2 linked regions of the Homo sapiens genome follow. The protein of the gene in region 1 interacts with the protein of each later gene in a pairwise test. Each region holds a gene or a part of one and is shown on either strand. Other genes may lie near its edges.

Region 1 (7,028 bases):
TTTTATATACATTTGAAAATATCACATGTACCGCATATATATATACAGTTATTATGTATCGACTTTAAAAATTGAAAAAATCCAGCCAGGCACGGTGGCTCATGCCTGGAATCCCAGCACTTTGGGAGGCCGAGGTGGGGAGATCACTCGAGGTCAGGAGTTTGAGATCAGCCTGGCCAAGATGGTAAAACCTTGTCTCTACTAAAAATACAAAAATAGCCAGGTGTGGTGGCATGTGCCTGTAATCCCAGCTACTCAGGAAGCTGAGGCAGGAGAATCACTTGAACCTGGGAGGCGCAGGTTGCAGTGAGCTAAGATCATGCCACTACACTCCAACCTGGGCGACAGAATAAGACTCCATCTCGAAAAAATAAAACAAAATTAAATAAATAAAAATAAATAAAAATTTGAAAAAATCTGATTAATTGGTATGGGAATTTGCAATTGCAGGTGATATGGCTACTCTTCTCACTAGAGATTTTCGACCAACTTGGTCAATGCACAAAAATGCAGTGGAAGCAATTCAACTATATGAAGCTCTTAGTTACTGATACCATTACATGCTGGATTTAACTTGCTTATTTAAACTATACCAATGAATGAATGCACATTGAAATAGCTGGCCAGCTCTTGAAACTTAGGAGACTGGGTTAAATATTATTTTTCAGAAATGTTTTAAAAAAGGAATAATTTTTTTTTTTACAGAATATCCAGATTGTTGATTTAATTTACATGTAACACATTCCTTTAAAACAGAGACAACTTTTTAAAAACTCAATTATCCCCTTAATAAGGCTGTATCTTAATCTGAACTACTATGATTAAAACATGAAAGAGCAGCATAAAACTAAACACTTTTAAATATTATCCTTAAAATGGTTTAATGCTTGTACACAGCATGAGTTAGCTTCTTACTTAAGACTAATAAAAACTTAAGAGTATTTCAGGATTATTAACTTTTGTTTTTCCAATAGGGTATTCTGTCTGTTTTAGAACAACTCAAGATATATATTTTCTGGATTTTATATTCCTAAAGGATAGGCAAAAACTGTCTACCTAAACTTGCTGTACTCAGATTTTATCAAACAGGAGATGAATGAGTCGGCTTTAACATTAAAAATAAAATAAGGCTGGGCCATGATGGCTCACGCCTGTAATCCCAGCACTTTGGGAGGCCGAGGTGGATGGATCACTTGAGGCCAGGAGTTTGAGACCAGCCTGGCCAACATGGCGAAACCCTGTCTCTACTAAAAATATAAAAATTAGCTGGGTGTGGTGGCAGGCACCTGTAATCCCAGCTGCTCTGGAAGCTGAGGAGGGAAAACTGCTTGAACCGGGAAGCAGAGGTTGCAGTGAGCTGAGATCGTGCCACTGCACTCCAGCCTGAGCAACAGAGTAATACTCAGTCTCAAAAAACAAAAAAATTAGCTGGTTGTGGTGGCTGGCACCTGTAATCCCAGCTGCTCGGGGAGGCGGAGGTACGAAAATCGCCTGAACCCAGGAGGAGCAGGTTGCAGTGAGCCAGGATTGCGCCACTGCACTCCAGGCTGGGCAACAGAGCGAGACTCCATCTCAAAAGAAAAAAAAAAAAAAAAAAAAGAAGCCTTTATTATTAAGCTTTTATTTTTGGAGTGCAGTGGCATGATCTCAACTCATTGCAAACTCCGCCTCCCGGGGTTAAGTGATTAGCCTGCCTCAGCCTCCCAAGTAGCTGGGATTACAGGCATGCGCCACCAGGCCCGGCTAATTTTTGTATTTTTTAGTAGAGACAGAGTTTCACCATGTTGGCCAGGCTGGTCTCGAACTCCTGACCTCAGCCTTGTCCACCCGCCTCGGCCTCCCAAAGTGCTAGGATTACAGGTGTGAGCCACTATGCCCGGCCATTTTTTTTTTTTTTTAAATAGAGATGGGGTCTCACTATGTTGCCCAGGCTGGTCTCGAACTCCTGGGCTCAAGTGATCCTCCTGCTTCAGTCTCCCAAAGTGCTGGAATTACAGGCATGAGCCAACACACACAGCCAAGGCTTCTTGATAATTATTCACCTGAAGTTTGGCAGCTCCTCCTTTGATAAGACCACAGATAATTTCTTCTACTCTTGTAGGGTTCTTGATTCGAACTGAACTTTTCTGGAATTCTGGCATCTAAAAGTAAAAGAAAATTAATTAATTAGTTTTCATTCTTCTTTCCCCAGGTTCCTTTGATACCAAGCAGAAACCTGTCTTATTTAAAGACATAAAAATATTAAGGCATTATTTTTAAAAAGCAAGCCACCACATCAAATTACCGTTTATTTATTTTGTTATTACTTTTTTAGAGATGAGGTCTTGTTTTGTCACCCCGGCTGGAGTGCAGTGGCACAATCCTAGCTCACCGTAGCCTCAAACTCCTGGGCTCAAATGATCCTCCCATCTCAGCCTCCTGAGTAGGTAGAAGGCATGCGCCATCATACCCAGCTAATTTTTAAAATTTTCTGTAGAAGTGAGTGAGGTCTTGCTTTGTTGCTCAGGCTGATCTTGAACTCCTGGCCTCAAGCAATCCTCCCATCTTGGCCTTCCAAAGTCCTGGGATTAAAAGTGTGGGACACCAAGCCCAGCTCCCACATTACCATTTATACACACAAAAATACTTAAAACTTATCAGTATTTTCCAGCTACAGAGTAAGATAAAACTACATTTGTGATTCAATTGCTTTATCAGAAAGTATATATCTTTTTCTAAGTATAAAAGCAATGCACGCTTACCACAGAAATAACAGTAAAAATATAAAAAAGACAATAAAAACTGCCTGGAGTTCAACTACGTGAAGATAAACAAGTAACATTTAAATTTATTTTCTATTAGTTTCATTTCTGTGATTTTCTATTAGTTTCATTTCTGGGTTGTGATGCAATCCAGAGAGCCCAGAAATCATATTTTAACCATGAATACCCCAGCAGCTACCCCTCGATTGATTAATTTTTCTAAAAATCTTAAGATGACTCCCGTTAAGCCTCCATTTTATATAATACAGTAACTAAACTTCCACCCTAATACTAATATAATACCTTCAGCATATCCCTCTGAAACATGCATATATACGCATATAGTTTTAGCTCATCCTCATTATATACTTTTGCATCTGGCTTTTATGAATTAATACATACATTTAGCTTGCCTACATATTTATATTTTAAAATGTTCCTGAGCAGAAAGGAAGCAATTATCACAATTATTCCCCCAAAAGTTTGTCTTTGTATAATTAAAATACATTTAAAATATTTTAAATTTGAAAAGCTGCTTCAAGATCTTTGCTCTTTTTATTGTACTATTTTCCAAATAATATACTGTTCTTGGCACACATTTTACAATAGATTTATTTCAAATGGAGATAACTGCCAAAAAGTATTGTGCCAGGCACAGTGGCACATGCCTGTAATCCCAGCTACTTGGAAGCTGACGATCACTGGAGCCCAGGAGTTTGAGACCAGCCTGGGCAACACAGCAAGACCCATCTTAAAAAATGGGTGTAGGCTGCTACTACAGAGTTATGAAGACTTTAGGGTTGCTCAACAATTTAATCTTAAGTATTATTTCTTGTTACTAGCTATTTTATCACAAATAGAATGAAACTGATTAGAGGAAAAATCAGTACAAGCTCTCATAGCACATGTACAATACAACTAGAAGGAGAAAATTATGCCTCATTTTATAGTCAGTTATACAGCATAGGCAATAATAGTACCTCAAATCCAAGTTCTATACTGGTTTGTACTGGATAATCTTTATTTATATGTTTTTATTCTGGGTATGTTATTAGTAATATTAACATAGTTCATGTGTGTCATGGACATGGTTACAAAAATTCCCTGGACCTTCTATCTTTGCTACAAGAGAATCTCACCACGTAAATCTATCAGATGCCGTGTTGTTCCTACATAATGGGCAAGAGTAGAAAAATCAGAAAAAGGATGGACTGTCTTCCAAAGACTGGAAGATGATAACGAAAGTGTAGAGGAAAGAGGCCGGGCACAGTGGCTCACGCCTGTAATCCCAGCACTTCAGGAGGTCGAGGTGGGCAGATCACGAGGTCAGGAGATCGAGACCATCCTGGCTAACATGGTGAAATACTGTCTCTACTGAAAACATAAAAAATTAGCTGGGCGTGGTGGCGGGTGCCTGTAGTCCCAGCTAGTTGGGAGGCTGAGGCAGGAGAATGGCGTAAACCCGGGAGGCAGAGCTTGAAAAAAAAAAGAAAGTGTAGAGAAAAGACAAATGCTAACATTAAAATTTTCTCCATGGATGAAAGATCTACCACCTACAATATATTTAATTTTAAAAAGCCATATTTAAGTAGGATGACCTGCAATGCAACTAACCTTGATGTAGTAATCCTTTTAACTCAACTGGATGAGTTTCAATGGCTTAAAGGTTATCTATGTATTTTATAGTGATTTTTCAATAGATGGAAAGGCAGATAGGCACTGGTTCCTATTTTTTTTTTTCATACATTAACCCATTCACTCGCCTAACCAATATTTACCATGTGTCTACTTTGTGCCACACACTCTTGCTAAATGCTAGGGATATGATGATGAGTAGTATTTACTCTGCTTTTCTGCTGAGTTTTAGGGACCACTGCTGTTTTGGAATATCACTTCTGTAACTCCCTTACAAATACCTCAGCTAGTAAGTTTATCTCTTGACAACTAATTTCTGTTCTTACCTCAGCCTTAACTGGCAGATGCACAGCAATCAGCATATGTTTGATTCAATAACCAATCCATTATGGTGAAAGCAACACAGGATATATATCATAGACTATTTTTTCACCAAAAAAATTAAATATTTGATTTCAGTGTACCCAAGATGTCTTACCTCAGGCAAATCACAGCTTCAAGTTTTTGATAACGGATAGGAGAATCACACCAAGACCACTTCGAAGAAGGCTGGTTTCTGCTACACTAACAAATGTAAGATTGGTTTATTTTATTTTTATAGAGATAAGGTCTTGCTGTGTTTCCCAGGCTGGTCTCAAACTCCTGGGCTCAAGTGATCTCCCCGCTTCAGCCTCCCAAAGTGCTGGGATTACAGGTGTAAGCCACCATGCCCAGCCAATACTGGTTTACTTTAAATCACAATGGATGAAAGAGAACCAGTAGCTAAAGGCATTGGTGGCTCCTGTGCAACATACAACCATTCATTTTCATTGTGTATTCATAAGTAGTGAATACACAAATGGCACGGGAGTAAAATAATGATGAAATAGGTATAAGAAATATAAAAATGACCATTCTATCTGTCTTGGGTTATATAGTATACTATACTCCTCTCCTGCAATACACAATTAATGTCACTGATCTATATGAGAAATACTTCACAAGAACTTGAGATATGGGGTATTTTACTCAAATACTTTACAATATAGCCTAAGAAAGAGAATCAAAGACTCCTGTATGGAATATGTCAAAGAGTATCATAATATAAGCACACTGTAGAAGTATGATGAAATACATCACATACTTTTTGTTGTGGTGGTTGTTGTTGAACATGCCCCAACTGTTGCATGAGATCACATACTTTTGTTACCTCCACAAAGTCCTTCTGTCTATATCCCTCTTATAAAAACACAGACTTGGTTTGGTGGCATATAAATAATGATACTTCAAATTTGAAGGGCAAGGTATTTTGAATTGTCTGAAAAATTTTCAATTTGATTATGATAAAATTTTATGAAAAATAAATAAGAAGCTAAAAATTTCCATCATTTGTGATAAAAAGAGAACAAATTCATTTTATGGTAAAGCCGCAGCGTAAAATGTTGGGGAGGGAGCAATGCCTTCCTGAAAAGAATCAGGGTATGTTGGTTGATTGATGCCAATCTGAATCAACACCAAAAATGATTAAGAAAGACCTAAAATTCACTTATTTTGACCAATACTTAATATATTTATAGAGATGAAATGGATTTCAAAGTTATGCCATTTTATCCACAACTCAATTGTTTAATATTAGATTTGATATGATCTTGTGGATACACTGGGATAAGATAAAAATGTGAAGCTCTGGCCAGGCGTGGTGGCTCAGGCCTGTAATCCCAGCACTTTGGGAGGCTGAGGCGGGCGGATCACGAGGTCAGGAGATCGAGACCATCCTGGCTAACACGGTGAAACCCTGTCTCTACTAAAAATACAAAAAATTAGCCAGGCGAGGTGGCGGGCGCCTGTAGGCCCAGCTACTCTGGAGGCTGAGGCAGGAGAATGGCATGAACCCCGGGGGGCGGAGCCTGCAGTGAGCCGAGATCGCGCCACTGCACTCCAGCCTGGGCGACAGCGAGACTCTGCCTCAAAAAAAAACAAAAAAAAAAAAAAAGAGAGAAGCTCCATAGTACAGTTACCAAATTTCTGGGTGTGGCTTGGTATCATCAATCCAATGATAATATTCCAGACTAGGGATAATCCTAATTTCCAGGATGAGATTATGACAACTTCAAAGTTTAATTCTGTTTGAACTAGATTTCAAATTATATTAAATTTTGATTAAAAAAGAAAACACGGCCGGGCATGGTGGCTCATGCCTGTAATCCCAGCACTTTAGGAGGCCGAGGCAGGAGGATCACTTGGGCTCAGCAGCTCGAGACCAGGCTGGGCAACGTGGCAAAACCCTGTCTCTACAAACAATACAAAAATTAGCCGGGCATGGTGGTGCACATCTGTAGTCCCAGATACTCGGAGGCTAAGGTGGGAGGATTGCCTGAGCCTGGGAGGCAGAGGTTGCAGTGAGCTGACATCATGCCACTGCACTCCAGCCTGGGTGACACAGTGAGACCCTGTCTCAAAAAAAAAATAAATAAATAAAAAGATTTTGTATTAAAAAACACACATAAATACATTATATTTAAAATAATGAATTATTATTCTTAAACTAAAAATAAAAAACAAAATAAACTAAGGGTTATACAATCCACAATGTACAGAGAAAACAATTCATATTTTAACCAAGACTAAAAAAATTACTTGTACTTTTAATTTATAAATATGTATGTTCATCTA
Region 2 (7,028 bases), on another chromosome or scaffold:
TGTCTCCACTCACCGGAACAGGGACTCCCCCAGGGAGGAGAGGTACTCCAGAAAGATTTCTTCTGTGACTTCTGTACTCCCCACATCAACCACAGAGTCTGGAGGCCCAAGCAATGTCCCTCCCTAAAAGAGCCAACCCAAAGGAAGTCATTAAGTTACCATCTCCACTGAATGTTTTAATGTGGCTTCCCACAGTAGACCACAAACACTCTGTTCTGACTTTTTTTTTTTTTTTTTTTTTTTAGACGGAGTTTCTCTCGTCACCCAGGCTGGAGTATAATCTCAGCTCACTGCAACCTCCGCCTCCCGGGTTCAAGTGATCCTCCTGCCTCAGCCTCCCAAGTAGCTGAGATTACAGGTGCCTGCCACCATGCCCAGATAATTTTTTGTATTTTTAGTAGATACAGGGTTTCACCATGTTGGTCAGGCTGGTCTCAAACTCCTGACCTTAAGTGATCCACCCACCTCGGCCTTCCAAAGTGCTGAGATCACAGGTGTGAGCTACTGCGCCCAGCCTGACTTCATATTTAACTTGCAGAGCACCCTGGGCAGATGAAGAATGTGATTTGCTATTTGTATCAAGGATGCAATAGCTTAGAAGCATTGGTGTCCAATCCTTTGGCTTCCCTGAGGCACACTGGAAGAAGAATGGTCTTGGGCCACACACAAAATACACTAACACTAATGATAGCTGATGAGCTTAAAAAAAAAAAAAGATAAAAAAATCTCATGTTTTAAGAAACTTTACAAATTCACGTCAGGCCACTTTCAAAGCTGTCCTGGGCTGCGTATGGCCCACAGGCTGCAGGTTGGACAAGCTTGGCTTAGAGCTTTCTGGTCACTTTTCATTGCCATGTGCTGGCAGCATAGTTAGGAGTCGGACTTCTTGTTTCTAGAGGGGAGGGGGGGCCCTGGGAAGCTGATTCTCTTGCAGCTCTGACTCCTGATGCTGTCCACTTACTCAGCTGAGAAAGAGAAACCCAGAATCTGAAGTCTACTTTTGTCCCCAGTATGTCTCATCATGAGGACAGAACAGGACAACAGAAATGGCTCACACTTCACAGGCCATCTCTCCATGCCTATTTGCATAAAGTATGCAGCCAGTTTTTCTTATGATATACTTGATATCCCGTGTAATAATGGAAAAACGAGGACGGTGAGAAATCTGGCAGGCTGGCAGATATTTCCATAATTCAGTTCTTTTTGGATCTGTGAGCCTAATCCTTGCCCTATCACCATCATAGGGCAAGGGAGTTAATGGCTCCCGAAAGGCCTACAGAAAACCCTCAGCCATGTGGTTAACAGACTGCCAGAGAAAACTGAAGGAGAGACTGAGGTTGAGTGGGGAAACCAGCCACTGGGGAAGCAACGGGATCAGCAGGAGAACAAATCTGGGAAGGGATAACACTCCAGAACAGAGCTCCCTGAAAAGATCATTCATTCATAGCCACTGAGCACCTCCTACATAGCTGACATTGTTCTGGGCACTGAGGAAAGCATGGTGAGCAAGATAACCATGGTAGGCAGAGAACAATTATCTCAGAGTTGTAAGAAACTAAAAGGTCACTCTTTGACCCCTCTTATTCACTCATATAACAACTATGGATTGAGAACTTATTATGTGTCAGGCCTTATGCTAGGCACTGGGGCTGTGGTGTGGACAAAATAGATGAGATTCTTGCCGTTAAGAAGCTTAGTGTAGCAGGGAAGGGAAACTGAAAAATCCCCTTAACCAGTATATAATTATGAGCTGCAATTAAGGGGAGGCTGGAAAAGTACAGAATGCCAACAGTACGTATGACAGGAGACCTTCCCGGTCTGAGGGATCAGGGAAGACTTGCCTGAGAAAGTGACACAACTCAAATCTGAAGGATGGAGAGGCGTAACCAGGTGAAGGATCAAGAAGGTGTACTGATGTCAGAGTGCAGGTTTCAATGTCTACGGTGTGTTCAAAGAATGAGAAGAGAGTGAGGGTTGGGAGGGAACAACCTAAAAGAGGCTGGCCAGAGTCAGAGTCAGAGACCAGATCAGGTAGGTCCTGGGAGGCCATGCTGAGTTTTCTGGCTTTTATTCCAAAAGCAATGGGAGAATTCTGGCTTATGCAGTAGATTGCTTGAGCCCAGGAGTTTGAGATCAGTCTGGGCAACATAGGGAGATCCTATCTCTAAAAAAATAGAAAAAAATAGCAGGGCGTGGTGGTGCTGAGTCCTAGCCACTCAGGTGGCTCAAGTGGGAGGATTCATTGAGCCTGGGAGGTGGAGGCTGCAGTAAGCAAGACTGTGCCACTGCATTTCTGGCCTGGGTGACAGAGCAAGACCCCGTCTCAAAAAAAAAAAAAAAATCCTTCCTGTAGGATGTAGCAAAAACAAACAAACACACAACCAAAATGAATGGCTGCTTGGCCATTGCTTGAGCACCTACTGTGACAACACTTGGATAGCTGATAGAAATTTTTGGAAAAGGCTGGGCGCTGTGGCTCACGCCTGTAATCCCAGCACTTTGGGAGGCCGAGGTGGGCTAATCACGAGGTCAGAAGTTTGAGATCAGCCTGGCCAACATGCTGAAACACCGTATCTACTAAAATATACAAAAAATTAGCTGGGTGTAGTGGCAGGCACCTGTAATCCCAGCTACTCGGGAGGCTGAGGCAGGAGAATGGCGCGAACCCGGGAGGCGGAGCTTGCAGTGAGCCGAGATCGCACCACTGCACTTCAGTCTGGGCGACGGAGCGAGACTCCATCTCAAAAAAAAAAAAAAAAAAAAAAAAAAAAGAAATTTTCGGAAAAGGGTGTGGGCTTTAGTGTGATAATCCTGGGTTCTAGGACTGGTGTCCCTTATTGGCTGTTTAAGTTTGGGCAAGTCTTGATGCTTCTCAGAGCCCTCATCATTCAGCTTAACATCAGTTGCGTTCCTAGGATGAGCCGGACACTGTGCAGGGGATGGAGATGGAAGGTCTCAGCTCGCAAGGAGCTTACACAGTTCCCTGTGGAGAACCAGAAACAGCTCATTTCACCATAACATGCTCTCTGTGAGACAGAAGGACCCACACGTGCCATGGGAACAGAGAGGAGAGGAACTGGCTGGGGTGTCTGGGAAAGGTTTTATTGAGCCAAGTCTTCAGGTGGCTTTGAGGAACAATGCCAGAAGTCCATAGTAGAAGCAAAGCTCCTGGTCTACAGGAGCCCCCAGGAACCTGAGACTGCAGGACAGAGTGTAGGGGAAGACACTCACCGGGGGGCAGCTGGAGATACCACCACTGCCGAAGAAGAACTCATCCTTGTGCACAACTATGGATGTGTGCCTGTCACACAGAGAGAGACACAGTAAGCCAGAAAACTTAAACTTTTGAGAAAAAGCAAACACCATAATGCAATGAGAGTAATTTCTGCCCAAGGATAGGACTGTGGGGACCAGTCTTATAAAACCAACAAACCAAAGGTATGAATATGATAAATACCACAGATCAGGGCTTCTCAATCTTGGCACTATTGACATTTGAGGCTGGATACTTCTTTGTTGTGTGGGGCTGTCCTGTGCATTCTAGTCTGTTGAGCAGCGTCCCTGCCTCTATCCACAAGATGCCAGTAGCATCCTCCTCCCTGTATGACAACCAAAAATATCTCTGGACATGGCCAAATGTCCCAGGGTGAGAGAGCAAAAGAACTGATGAGAAGCACTGCTTTAGGGCTTGAAGATTTATAGCATGGAGAGCTAGGTTTCATGCTGGAAGCCACAGACTAGAACCTGAAATGCATAGAGTGCTGCCTTGTTTCAAAACTAGTCAAAGTAAGGAGACCCACCCAACTTACCAGATGCCTTCCAGTTGTTTCCCTGTGGAGAGAAGAAGAGATTTAGCCACTTGGGACTAGAATAAGTGGCCCCTCAGCCTTGGTAAATTCATGACATCACTCAAACCCAGGGTAACCTGTCATAAACCTCTTGAGGGACTTTCTAGGAATGCAAGTCCCCTCCAGTAAGGTCTTTAGGTTGTGACAGAGTGTAAGTAAGTTGAAAAGTAATGAGAGTCTTTTATCAGAATGCAAGATTAAAAACACTAGTATAAAGGTACCCCAGTTTTATGTCTGCTATTCTTTCCTCTTTGGGGTCAATTCAGCTATGCCTTTTTAACTTCTCTGTCTCACGTACAGTAAGACTATAGTAATACAATGAATGTTATTACTCATTTCTTCATTGAGGTGAAATCCTTCAGAAACTGATAGGATAAAACTTTGCAAATGCTATCCATTTAAATAGTTAAAGCACGTTATTCTACCTCTATGTGCCAGAAACAATGTTAGGTGTGGAAATGCAAACAGGAACGTATCACTTTCCTGCCCTTGAGAAGCTCAAAGTCAAATGGACTGAGACACACAAATAATTAACTAAAACACAATGTTAATATGCTGTATCATAGTGGTAAAAATAAGGTACTAAATATAATAAACTACTTTTGTGAGCTTCCATTACCAATGACAAGTAAGGGCAGGGATGGACATTTCTGTGGGAGAGAACAAGATGTGCACATGCATGGCTGTGAAGTCTAAAGCCTGCAGGGCAGAGTGAAGGGGGCAGTGATGGTGCCAAGGGGAGGAGCGGCCAACAGGATGGCCAGCAAAGCGGGCAGGCCTGGACTCAAAGAGGCTGTGAGGCTGGAGAGTGCCTTGATCAGATCCATGTTCGGAAAAGATAACTGTAGTTGTGGGATAGCAGATGAATTGGAGGGAAGAGAGCAGACCAAGCAGACCATCACAAGAGTCCATGAGAGATACTCTACAGCAGTGCTCAGGAGGCAGAGGAAGGGCATTGAAAGACGTGGAGTGTCAGCAAACATCACCCACTCACTCCTGCTTATCACTTCACACGGCGACATGGCAGATTACTGATTGCTAACTGCTACCTTCGCTGTTTGCCCTGTGCCTTTCTTTTTTTTAGAGGCAGAGTCTCTCTGTTGCCCAGGCTGGAGTGAAGTGACGTGATCTCGGCTCATTGCAACCTCTGCCCCCCGGGTTCAAGTGATTCTCATGCCTCAGCCTCCCAAGTAGCTGGGATTACAGGCATGCACCACCAAGCCCGGCTGATTTTTGTATTTTTAGTAGAGACAGGATTTTGCCATGTCGGCCAGGCTGGTCTCGAACTCCTCGCCTCAAGTGATCCACCTGCCTCAGCCTCCCAAAGTGCTAGGATTACAGGCATGAGCCACCACACACTTGGCATAGCATCCTCAGAGATAGTTAAGGGGACCATATGGGTTCAGATCCTGGATTTTCCACTTCCTAGTGGTGGATCTTGGGCAAGTTTACCCAGCCTGTTTAAGTCTGTTTCTCCAGTTCAGAGTTGCTGTGACTGGTAATGTTAATGTATAGAAAGCTTCACAGTATGTGATATACAGATGTCTGATAAATGGAGGCTCTTATTAGGTACAATGACCTCCTTGGGGAAAAGGGTAAAGACTTCCAGAAGATAAAAATAAATTCTACTTCAGACATGTCACAGTGGCCCACCCCTGTAATCCCAGCACTTTGGGAGGCCGAGGCAGGCAGATTACTTGAAGCCAGGAGTTCAAGACCAGCCTGGCCAACAGAGAAACCCAGTCTTTACTAAAAATAAAAATAAAAAAACTCTCTGGGTGTGGTGGCATGCACCTGTAGTCCCAGCTACTCAGGAGGCTGAGGCACGAGAATTGCTTGAACTTGGGAGGCAGTGAGCCGAGATTGCGCCACTGTACTCTAGCCTGGGCAACAGAGTGAGACCCTGTCTCAAATAAAACAAAAAATAGGCCAGGTGTGGTGGCTCACACCTGTAATCCCAGCACTTTGGGAGGCCGAGGCGGGCAGATCACATGAGGTCAGGAGTTCGAGACCAGCCTGGTCAACAACCCCGTTTCTACTAAAAACACAAAATTAGCCGGGCATGGTAGTGCATGCCTATAGTCCCAGCTACTCGGGAGGCTGAGGCAGGAGAATCGCCTGAACCCAGGAGGCAGAGGTTGCAGTGAGCCGAGATTGCGCCATTGCACTCCAGCCTGGGCAACAAGAGCAAAACTCTATCTTAAAAAAAAAAAAAAAAAAAGACAAGGTACGGTGGCTCACGCCTGTAATCCCAGCACTTTGGGAGGCCGAGGCAGGCGGATCACAGGTCAGGAGTTCAAGATTAGCCTGACCAACATGGTGAAACCCTGTCTCTACTAAAAATACAAAAATTAGCTGGGCATGGTGGCAGGCACCTGTAATCCCAGCTACTCGGGAAGCTGAGGCAGGAAAATCGTTTGAACCTGGGAGGTGGAGGTTGCAGTGAGCCGAGATCGTGCCACTACTGTACTCCAGCCTGGGCAACAGGGTGAGACTCTGTCTCAAAAAAAAAAAAAATTCTACTTCAGTATTGGTAAGTAAAATCTAAGAACAGATTTCAACATCCAGCAAATTAATATGAAATGCTATATCTATTTTACATGTAAAATTCCATTCTTTGCTGTTAGTGTTCCCAGGCTAAATGGAATAACAAGAAAATGAAATGTAGCGGAGTACTTCTGCCTCTGTTCCAATTCCAGAGATCAGTCTGCTTTTCACCAAGAGATCTGCTGCTCTGGCCCGGAAGACCACAAGTGGGCCGGGCGTGGTGGATCACCTGAGGTCAGGAGTTTGAGATCAGCCTGGCCAACATGATGAAACCCCGTCTCTACTAAAAATACAAAAATTAGCTGGGCGTGGTGGCAGGCGCCTGTAATCCCAGCTACTTGGGAGGCTGAGGCAGAAGAATCACTTGAACCCAGGAGGCGGAGGTTGCGACGAGCTGAGATGGCGCCATTGTACTCCAGCCTGGGTGAAAAGAGCGAAACTCTGTCTCAAAAAAAAAAAAAAGACCACAAGTGGATAGAGGGATCCTAGCCAGGGGTTTCTGGGGATAGCACCCTAAAGAATGTGAGGCAGGTTCTGACCTTATCCAAACTGAGGTGAAATTTCACAGTGGTTGATGAGAACCAGACTGGATGCCAAAGGGGAGTGGTAATCCATTTAGGACGAGCATCTTCA

What was found. Proteins that work in one complex are often made in the same cells at the same time.
Region 2: the proteins of NT5C3A (region 1) and DESI1 interact in binary tests that used the Homo sapiens proteins (3 or more experiments, as listed by UniProt).

Annotation. Positions count from the first base shown.
Region 1 is NC_000007.14:33,024,775-33,031,802, forward strand, and holds part of NT5C3A (cytosolic 5'-nucleotidase 3A), read right to left. Parts: intron 4,941-7,028; exon of another isoform or gene 4,855-4,940; intron 2,142-4,854; coding exon 2,043-2,141; intron 1-2,042. UniProt on the Homo sapiens protein: Nucleotidase which shows specific activity towards cytidine monophosphate (CMP) and 7-methylguanosine monophosphate (m(7)GMP). CMP seems to be the preferred substrate.
Region 2 is NC_000022.11:41,604,031-41,611,058, forward strand, and holds part of DESI1 (desumoylating isopeptidase 1), read right to left. Parts: intron 3,832-7,028; coding exon 3,810-3,831; intron 3,600-3,809; exon of another isoform or gene 3,496-3,599; coding exon of another isoform or gene 3,458-3,495; intron 3,302-3,457; coding exon 3,232-3,301; intron 124-3,231; coding exon 14-123; intron 1-13. UniProt on the Homo sapiens protein: Protease which deconjugates SUMO1, SUMO2 and SUMO3 from some substrate proteins. Has isopeptidase but not SUMO-processing activity. Desumoylates ZBTB46. Collaborates with UBQLN4 in the export of ubiquitinated proteins from the nucleus to the cytoplasm.